Homo sapiens: one gene and its partners. The protein of the gene in region 3 purifies or fractionates together with the protein of the main gene of each other region. This does not show direct contact. Each region holds a gene or a part of one and is shown on either strand. Other genes may lie near its edges.

The links.
Region 1: the proteins of TAF5L (region 3) and RAP2A purify together in Homo sapiens (co-immunoprecipitation; one large-scale study listed by IntAct). This does not show direct contact.
Region 2: the proteins of TAF5L (region 3) and KAT14 purify together in Homo sapiens (affinity purification with mass spectrometry, with the first as the bait; one large-scale study listed by BioGRID). This does not show direct contact.

Annotation. Positions count from the first base shown.
Region 1 is NC_000013.11:97,440,606-97,444,263, forward strand, and holds part of RAP2A (ras-related protein Rap-2a), read left to right. Parts: intron 1-3,658. UniProt on the Homo sapiens protein: Small GTP-binding protein which cycles between a GDP-bound inactive and a GTP-bound active form. In its active form interacts with and regulates several effectors including MAP4K4, MINK1 and TNIK.
Region 2 is NC_000020.11:18,185,589-18,188,583, forward strand, and holds the end of KAT14 (cysteine-rich protein 2-binding protein), read left to right. Parts: intron 1-1,697; coding exon 1,698-1,871; 3' UTR 1,872-2,447; downstream 2,448-2,995. UniProt on the Homo sapiens protein: Component of the ATAC complex, a complex with histone acetyltransferase activity on histones H3 and H4. May function as a scaffold for the ATAC complex to promote ATAC complex stability. Has also weak histone acetyltransferase activity toward histone H4.
Region 3 is NC_000001.11:229,609,029-229,612,686, reverse strand, and holds part of TAF5L (TAF5-like RNA polymerase II p300/CBP-associated factor-associated factor 65 kDa subunit 5L), read left to right. Parts: intron 1-2,476; coding exon 2,477-2,581; intron 2,582-3,658. UniProt on the Homo sapiens protein: Functions as a component of the PCAF complex. The PCAF complex is capable of efficiently acetylating histones in a nucleosomal context. The PCAF complex could be considered as the human version of the yeast SAGA complex.

The DNA of each region.
Region 1 (3,658 bases), on a different chromosome or scaffold from region 3:
AAGAGCTCAGTGTTTTTCATGATCTTTTTTTCTTTAAAAACCACTTTATTGAGGTATGATTGATGTACAAAAAGCCAGACATATTTAATGTGTACAACTCAGTGAGTTTAGAGATAAGCATACACTTGTGAAATCACCACAATCAATGCTGTAAAACTATCCATCACCTCCAAAAGTTTCCCCCTGCTTTATTTATCTATCCATTCATTCATTCATTCATTCATTTTTTTTGTAGTAAGAACACAACATAAGTTCTGTCTTCTTAGCAAATGTTTATACAATACAGTATTGTTAACTAGAAGTACTATTACCATACAGATGTCTGGGACTTACTTATCTTGCATAACTGAACTTCATACAGTGAATCACTTTATGTGGCCCAGAAGTTTTTCCTGAAAAGGAAACTTTTGTTTTGGCTGCATTGTAAAATTACAGGTTACAGTATATAGTTTTCTTTTTGCCACTCCAGGATTGTAATTTTTAAAGCTCAATTTGGAGTTGGAGGAGATGATGTCTCTTCCTCTCTAACATTCTGTGAGAGCACTTTTGTCTGGCCGGGGTGATGAGGGAAGGGGTCAAGTTTAATATGAACCTTAAAGAATCAGCAGCCTGTGACCCACAATTTTGTCTAGTTAAGATTTGATAATTGTATCAATAAAATCTACAATAAGGAATAATTATACTAATACTTATTTTTTAATGGAGGGCAAAAATAATTTAAATTATTAAACATTAAGGAAGAGGTAGAGGAACTAAGAAAAATCACTGGATTTCACAGCCAACAGGAAGAGCCAACAAAGTTGGAATCTATTTGCTAAAGTTTCAGTAGCAATATACTTGAGTGATTTAATTTCTGTGTGTGAAGTTCTGGGAAATTACATATGGCACAATAAGGTGCATATATTATGCATGTATATGTACATATTTTTAAGCAAGGATCTTTACATAAAACCAAGTACACTGTACTTAAGGGAATTTTTTTTCAGGGGTATTTTTTTCTTTTCAGTTCTCTTTTAGTCATTGTCTTTAGAACCTTACTGCCTAGGGGAGCATGTATGCCTTACTCTGGGGTTTTCTTTGCTTCTGTTTTGATTTTTCCCTGTTTTCTGTTTCTCTCCATCTATTCTTACCTACTGTTTTTTTACACACTTATATTTTTCAGGCCTATGTTGTAAAAAGAGTTTTAAGTACTCTAAGTTTTTTTGGAGTAATAAGAGTTTGAATACGAGCAGACTTTCAAACAAGGTAAAACTGATGGTGACTGAATAGTTACTAAAGGAAATGTATAGATATTGTGTTTATGTAGGAAATTTATCTTGAAATTTTAATGGTGTGCAGAAATATGCCATATATTATATATTGCCATTTCATTTGTTACTTTGACACTTGTGGTTCATATCATTAAAAATTATTCTCAGCCTGACAGAGAGAAGTTTAATTTCTTAAACATCCTTTCTGCTTTACCAGATCAAACTCAGCCTTTTAGTAGAGTAATATCAATAATAGTAATGCTGTAATTGTGGACATCTGCATTTCAGTCAAGTATGTTAAATAAAGCATAAATATATTAGTAAAATTTAAAGTAATCAAAATAACTAAAAACAATATTTGAAGATTCTAATACATAATCTAGCTAAGATTTTGTCATGGTATGTATTAAATTCTTTCTCTGGCATAATTGTATAGATGGGGATTTGTTTTTGTTTTTTATTTCTCTAATACATTTAAGATTTTAAAACATACCAAAATTTATATTTAGGGAGAAATAAGGTGACTTATAATTTTTATTTTTAAATTGTTATCTGTCAAAAAGCCAAATATTGGAAAAAATTAATAACTATCTCTATTTTTATAGATCCACTCAGCAGGGGATTTCACATTTTCTTAACCAGGGCCCTCAGTAAGAAGTACATTTTATATTGTGACTTAGTGCACACATAGGAATAAATACATCTAGCCGAAATCAACATTTCATAAGACAGTAAACTTGCTATGTTGCTTGTATTACTTTTTCTATTTATTTTTTTCTATTTTATTTCGTTGTTTTTAAGTGCTTTTCATGACCCACCAAATTGATTTTATCACACATAGCTTGGAAACTGCTATCCTAGGACATTTTTACTCTAAGAAAACTAAATGTAACTATCTGTTTAATATTTCATCTTCTCTCTCCTGCTTTTCTGGTTCCCAGCAATGCTGTGTAAGATTACGAAAATGAAGTACTTCCCAATGTGAGTTAGTAAATACTACCTGTAATTCAGAGAAAGATAGCATTTAGTCACTGAACAAAAAGATATAGCATATCTTTTGAGAAAGCATTTATCTCTGTTGTGCATATTAGAAATATGAGAATGTATTTCTCATGTAATGTTGTTCATTCTAGTAATTCAAGATAACTTTTGCCTTGTGAAAACTTAGAACAGAGAAAGGGAGGTTGTGGTAGTATTCAGACTTGAATACATGAGTGCGGGATTATCTATTTCAAGAACAGTTGCTGAGGAGGTTCAGAAAACTCAAAATAGAGGTCTGCTGCATCTATCCAGGATAACACTGATTCACCTCTCCCTGTAAGACAGTAAAACTATAAATATCTTAAAATCACTTAGTAAAGTTACCCAAGAGAAACATTGAAAAACCTTTATTTAAAACATTTAGGAGTGTTCTCATGCTTTCCTGACCCTTAGAAATTAATAATTCAAATGTGGAAATACTATATTAATAATTCAATGCATATTAGTATTTTCTCTACTAAGTATCTTTACAGCTCTCTCTCTGTAAATGAAATCTTAGAGTATTTTAAGAGACAGGGTCTTGTTCTGTTGCCCAGGCTGGAGTGCAGCGGCGCCATCAGAGCTTACTGCAGCCTCTAACTCCTGGGCTCAAGCAACCCTTCTGCCTCAGCCATCTGAATAGCTAGGACTACAGAGCAGGCACCACCGCATCCAAGTAATTCTTTAAAAATTTTTTCTAGAGATGGGATCTTGTTATTTTGCCCAGGCTGGTCTCAAACTCCTGGCCTCAAGTGTTCCGACTACCTCAACTGCCCAAAGCACTGGGATTACAGGCCTGAGCCACTGCCCCTGGTCCTAAATTAATTCATCTTTAGGTTTCCAATGAACATTATGAATACTGTATGTATTATAATTCTCGAATGGAGTATTTTATTGTATATACTTATCTTCTCATCCATGAAGACAGCGAATGTTAATCTCATTAAAGCTGAGATCCAGCACTTATTAGTTATGTAATTAGGAGCAAGTTGACATTCCTTGCATTTTAATTTCCTCATTTGTAATATGAGTATGATGTAGTAACTCGTGAGATAACGAACGTAAAGTGTTTCTTTACATAGTGAACCTAAAATATTAATAATAAAGTTTCACCAAGAATCACAGAAATAGGAATGAAACCCAGCCTTTTATCTGTATACTGCCACGTGACTTCTTAGGAATTAGGCTCAATTGTCTTACTATATTGAGATGAATTATATACCTAGTATAGTATAACATTTCTGTTTTTCCCATTGCTTTCTCCTCTGTGTTTTAAGTGCTCTAACACTACGTTATAGAACTTATAGCATAGACCTTGAGTGCTTTGTGTTTTTGCCTTCCCCTAGAGACCTAAATATATTGGCTATAAATGGTGGCGGTAAATTTTT
Region 2 (2,995 bases), on a different chromosome or scaffold from region 3:
ATTATAATTCATCCTTTAATATATTTGTATCACCTTTGAAGAAAATACACCATATATCACCATCAAAAAACATGCAAGGATTTTTTTCCCCTAGAATTTTTTTTAGTCAACTTTTACTTAGAAACCATTTGGTATGGAGGATTATATGTTTATGCAGGCAAGATTCCTTTTAAAGAGGAGATGAAGATGATAAAAGTTGTTTCTCCAATTTTTAATGAAACTTGCTTAATAATTCCCAAATGTTGGCAGGAACCTTGGAACCATTTTCCTAGAAATTGCTTTCCTTCTCTCCTTAGGCAGTGATTATGTAAATCACTCACTGAGTAATTAATATGTGCTACTTTGGGTGGTGGTTTTCTCTTGAGAGCTTCTCAGTTATTTCTACAACACTCCCTTTCTCTGCCCCATCCCAACCAAGAGTTGATCTCTCAGTATGCGTCTTTTTAACCTAGGAGAGCACTTAGAGGATTTGCTGCCGTATCTGTCACTGGTAAGGGCCTGAAGACAGGGCACGAATAGTACTCTGTCCTTGTGTGTGTGTGTCCTTGGTGCCCAACATGAGGGCTGGTACAGAGTCAGTCCCTGCTGAGTGTTTGCGAGGCCACTGGAGGAGTGGTTCATCTTTGCAGGTGGGCACCTTCCCCTCCAGCCAGACCATACCCCTGAGGGCCCAAACATAGGTGGCGCACAGTCGCTGGCACTCAATGATGGCCACGGTGAGATCACGTATATTTGCAATCTAGCAAACACCAATATGACCCCACAAAATTTGCTTTAAAAACTCACAAAGTGCTCTTGTCCCTGGCATACTGGTAAGTGCTCTCTTGTCCTAAAAATGCCTATGGATACACATGGAAGTTAAGCAGAGAAAGCAGGTAGCTATCAGATGACTGTCAACAGAGGAGTTCTTAGAGGCCTGAGAGAACCATGGGTTATAAATCTCAAGGACTCTATCAACTTCAGTATTTCAGTGCCTTCTTTATTAAAAAGTAAGTTCTTAAATGATATGACTTTTGGGACACCTTACTCTGTGTAGCTGATTAAAGAATCTAAGGACTTGCCTTGTGTTGATAGAATGATTGTTACTCTTTTCCCCTAAGATTAGGTCAAAGCTGAATGTAGAAATCTCAGTTCTAAGAAGCTAATTCTGTCAGTTTTAGAGAGACAGAAGGTGGACTTTGGGATTCAGAAGGTCTATACAAGGGCCTCAGGTTTTATAATTACATTCTTAATATTTCATGTTTGTGCATGTAATTTAGCAGGCCTAGTAAAGGAATTTTTACAGGTTTTGGGGAGGTACAAGATAACATCTAGTTTTAAAAAGCAAAACTTATTTTGTTTTGTATTTATTCAAGGTTATCATAGTGTTAGGTATTGAAATGTTTGACATATTTAAAGGTAATTGAGTTGTAAATAATAAAGCTGACAATAACAATATCCCCATTGACCCTTTGCTTCAAAGAAAAATAAAAAACACCCAGAATACTATCAGTTTCCTTGGTCTTGTGAATGTTTTGATCAGCAGCAAAATGTCATTCTGTTTCCAGCTGTTGCTAGGTGTTGCAATGTCTCAGCCTCAGTCTCTGATTTCTCCGGTTTCCATAACTAACTGCCTACACTTAAAAGCGTTTCTTTACCTACTCATTTTCCCTCAGGCCTTTCCATTTTTATCTTGTATTTTTCCACTCTTTTGGCAGACCTGCATGGGCAAGGACGTAACCCTTCACGTCTCAGCAAGCAACCCCGCTATGCTACTGTACCAGAAGTTTGGATTCAAGACTGAAGAATATGTATTAGATTTCTATGATAAATATTACCCATTGGAGAGTACAGAGTGTAAACACGCATTCTTTCTGAGGCTCCGGCGCTGATGCGAATACAGCTCACAGAGAAACGCATGTGCTATTGGAGAACAGGTCTTTGTGGAGATCTAAAGGCAGTGATTGATTTCACAGGGAGCTCTAATCTCTGTGATTACATGGTCCTTCAAACTCCCAACCAAAGTGAGAAAAGCGGCATGCAGTGAAATGAGCAGTGAGCAGCCCTTTAGCAAAATCGCCCTCCAGTCCTTCCTGGAGATGCCTTCAGCCAGCATCCCAGACTCCACAGTTATTTATGAATGATGTCGTGATTCTCCCTCCACCTGACAGTTTGTAAGAGTGAAAGAGCATCTAACCTGATGCTCTTGGAGAGAGATAACCTGTCTGTCATAACTTAAAGGATGAGAAAATGTGGTGTAGCTATTAAAGATTCATGCAGTCCCAAAAGGCACTGTCCTGGGATGATGAGAGATTATAAGGTGATTTCATAAAAGGAATCCAACCCTGTGCCCGGCCATTGATGTGTTGTCATTGAATCCAGGAGGATTTCTAGGGCACTGAAGTTTTGTTGTTTCTTTTGCTGACTTTGGTTACAGTCAGAAAAAATAAACTAGATGTTTGTGTCTACATGTTCTACCTGTTGTACCTATTAGCATCTTCCTGCAGGGACTTGGGCCCATGGCCTGGGAGGTTGGTTTGGGATTGGGGTTGTTGGGCAGCCTGCCATTCACCTGGCCTATCCTGGCCCTTCTCATGCCCAAGACAGTTGTTTCACAGGAGTGGAAGTGTGGGTGATGCAAGTAGAACCCTCTAGATGTACCCTGTGTGGTCTGCAGGACTGGACTGTTTGCTGTGTTTGTGGATGTTGGCGATAGACTGTCAATTAGGTTGTTTGTGATCCAACAAGAACATTTCCAAAAGTATCTAGGTGTTCTCAAATAAAAAGCTTTCTTTGCACAACCCATGGCCAGAGCGTCAATCTAGTCAGTTTGCTTTCAAACCCTCTTTAATTAAGATCAGTGGTTCTTAACTTTTTGGGACATGGATCACTTTGAGAATACAAAGAAAGCTGAATACTCTCTAGAAAACTGTCATGCACATTTAAAATTTTGCATCAGGGATCTGTCGACCACAAGTTAAGAACATCTGTTCTAGAAGCTGTACTTGCAGCCAGC
Region 3 (3,658 bases):
ACAACCTGAGGATGCTCTCAAAGGAGTGGTTCCTGACTTCCTCTGAAACACTAACAGAAGCCCAGTCAGCAGCCTGCCATCACGTATTTCAGGGTTGGATCCACCCATTATTCCTTGCCTTCAAACTCCTCAGAGATACCCTTGACCAAAACAGGGCCAGATGATGGCCTTGGTATAGAATACTAAGTGCCTTATTGTTTGAATAGGGGAGTCCATTTACAAGGCCTCTGTCCCATTGTAGAGTAATTCCTTCTGAACATGCCATCCTAGCCATTTAAAAAATCTGCTGCCCTGCATCCTTTGGAACCAGAGAGCAGTAATTCTTGCTGTTGTTGATAGAAAGTAGGAATGAACAATATTAAACAGACTTCCAGAACTTTGCTCGTCTAAGTTGTCTTAGTTTCAATAGAATAGCTTATTAGGAGAAAGTGTTATTGCTGGAAAACCACCAGGAAAAGTGAGAAACATGAAATATGATTATCAGAAGATTTTGTCCTAGATTTTTCCATTAATTGAGTAATCTGAAGAATTCTTTTTTCAGCAGACATTTAGTGAACATCTGCTATAGGCCAAGTGCTGAAAAGTTCTAGAGATAGCTACGATTTGACCCTAGCTCTGAGAAGCTAAGTGTTCTAATTGGGAAGTGAGGCAGGTAAGTCAGTGATTGTAGAAGAGCATGAGGTAGTAAGTTCTGTGAGGGGGAGGTTCAGTGGTAGCAGAAAAGATCATCCAAATTAGGCTGGCAAGCCAAGGAAGGATCCCCAAAAGGCCTTGTGATTCCTGACATATAGTTGGGGGTCACTAAATAGTTGAAAGAGTGAGCTGAGTTGCAAAGGAACCATTAGATGTTTACCAGGGAACAAATTGGAGGAGGGTATCCAGGTTTTCAAATGTGAATTTTAGAAAACTCAGTCTGGTGGCAGTATTGATAAGGCAGCCCAGATTAGAATCGAGGAAACTAGTTAAAAGACGCAGTCCAGTGAGAAGTGAGGACAGCCTCAGTTGAGGAAGTGGTAATGGGAGTGGAGAGGAGAGGATATATTTTAGGAATCTGTAGGACTTAGTGACAGAGTAACTAAGCGGGGGGCAAGAAGAAGGAGGAGGAGTCCCTCCCTTGCATGCAGGCTTGCAGCAGGTCCTCTCTTCTGACTGTCTCTTCCTTCTCCTGGAGTAGGTTGGCTTTCCTCTCACCTGTGTTTCCCTTTCTACGTATTTCCTGTTATGGCGCCCTCAGTCCTGCCACATTCATCACCATTTCTCCATCCATATTCCATTGACAAAATGCATTCATGTTTCATTCAGGACGCGGTTAAAGGTGGCTTCCCTTGGTTTTTAGCCACCTTCTTTCCCCGGTGTTCCCCACTCCTCTTGTAAACAGGAGGAGAATGGTTTTTGTTTTTTGTTTTTAGAAAGCATAAACTCACAGATTGGAGATTAAGTGTGTGTTTACATACTGAATATTGAGACTCCAGCCTTGTTTCCCCTGCACCAATTCATATGCCCGGAATACTGCAGCCAGGCACACATGCTCCAGGAAGGCAAGTAAACAATCCTTCCCTGGTGAGTCCAACTTGCCCAAGAAGAAAGACGAAAAGACAGTGATGTTGGGACATTGCTCACCCTGGTCACCCTGGAGGATGAGCCTCACCACCCAGAGTGCCTCACCGTAAGACAGCCAGGGGCCATTGAACCCTAGAAGAAACATATCTCATAAGAAGGGCAGATGGAAAGAAACAGAAGAAAACTTCAAAAATACCTTGTTTTAAATACTTAAGATTCAAAAAGCATAGCGTGTTTAGGGGAAAAGAGAATGTTGAGAATGAAAAAAGTTACCAATTAGATACATGATAGTAAAAAATAAAAACTCATTAGGTATTATAAGTAATGTAGGGGGAAATAGTAGAAGGGCTGAAGGGTGAGGAAGGCTTTCAGAAAGTAGAGCAAAAAGACAAAGAAATGGAGTAATAGGAGAAAAAAATTAAAGGATTGGTTCAGGATATCCGACCTTGAAATTGTAGGAGTCTTGGAAGATAGGGAATTATCAAAATGATTCCAGAAAACTTCACAGAACTAGAAGACATGAATTTCCAGATTGAAAGGGCCCACTAAGTGCCCAGCACAGTGATTGACAATGAACCCACACCAAGGCACCTGTGAAATGTCAGAACATAGGATCAAACATTTCCTGATGAATCTCATGGATTGATGTACCTGTCCTCTCTCATTCACCTTATCCTGTGCTTTATGCCTTTCCTTCCCTGGCCTTCATTTTATTGGGCTTCAGGAGGGAGGGGAGAGAAACAAGTGTCATCAGTCTGTCATGTTTAACCAGGACCCAGCATGCTTTGGAAACCTGCTGAAATGTCAGTTGCTGTGCGTGTGTGCACAACACCCTCCTTCACCCATCCTGCCACGTACTGGGTTAATAATCGTCTCTCTGTTTCCCGCCCTGACTTGTGTATCTTCTCCTCTTTAGTGCAATCAGAATCTGGTTGTGCCAACATAGTGTCTGCAGCCCCTTGCCAGGCAGAACCCCAGCAATATGAAGTACAGTTTGGACGACTGCGGAATTTTCTCACTGGTAAGTACTCAGCTCTAGAACCTTTTCTTTTTAAGAAAACAGAGTAATACAGACCAACTTTGGGCACACTGCTTGTGAGTTAGCCCTGCTCCACAAGGAGCGGTAAAAAGAAAAATTAAAAAATAGAGTAATGCAGATTTCCCTCAGAACCAACTATATTCCACAATTGGTTTGAGGTACTAGGGATTCGAAGGTACTCTTAACACAGTTCTTGCATTCAAACTTATGGTCTATTGGAATTCCTGAAGAGTTCAATCACGAGGTTTAAGTTTACAAGGGCAGAGCTCTGGGTGTTTATTCACTGTTTTATTCATGGCCTTCAGCACAGTGACTTGTGACTTGTATTGAATAAGTAAAAACTGTCAGCTATGCAGAGAAGCATCCTTAAATACAGCACATTTGAAATGTACATGACATCTCTACTAATAATATAGTACATTTCACAATGGTCTTTGCCCCGTATTTCCAAAAGTGCAAGTAAATAGTCCTTATGAATGAACAGGCAAAAATGCTAGAAGTTGTCATTTAGACCAGTTTTTGAGTGGCAGAATGACCACTTGAGATAAGAATAAAAAAGATACTGTAGAACATTAGGAAGAAAAACATTAAGAGCCCCAGAAGATAAATCGGAAAGGGATGTGAACATAAAAATTTACACCAGGATAACTCACTTTAGCAATCAACCGAGTGTATTAATACTTCACTGCAAAAATCATTACAGTTCTGTAGCAATAAAATTATGCCATTGAGTTTATTTTATTATACACCTATGCTTCAGTGATTAAAAAAATACAAAAATGTATGTAATGTCATTAGGGTCATCTGAGTGTCACTCATAATAGAAATAAGTCATGACCATGACAAGAGCCATCTCACTGTCATGAGTCAGAATATACCACTATTAAAATTATACATTTGGTGATTTACTTTTGTGTCTGTTTTCCTCATTAGACTATATGCTCCATGAGGGCGGGGACCATATCAATATATCTTAGGACAATATCTATCCTGGCATGTAGTCAGCACTTAACATAAATACAGGCTGAACGAATGAAGGAGACAGGCTCAAAGAAGCCA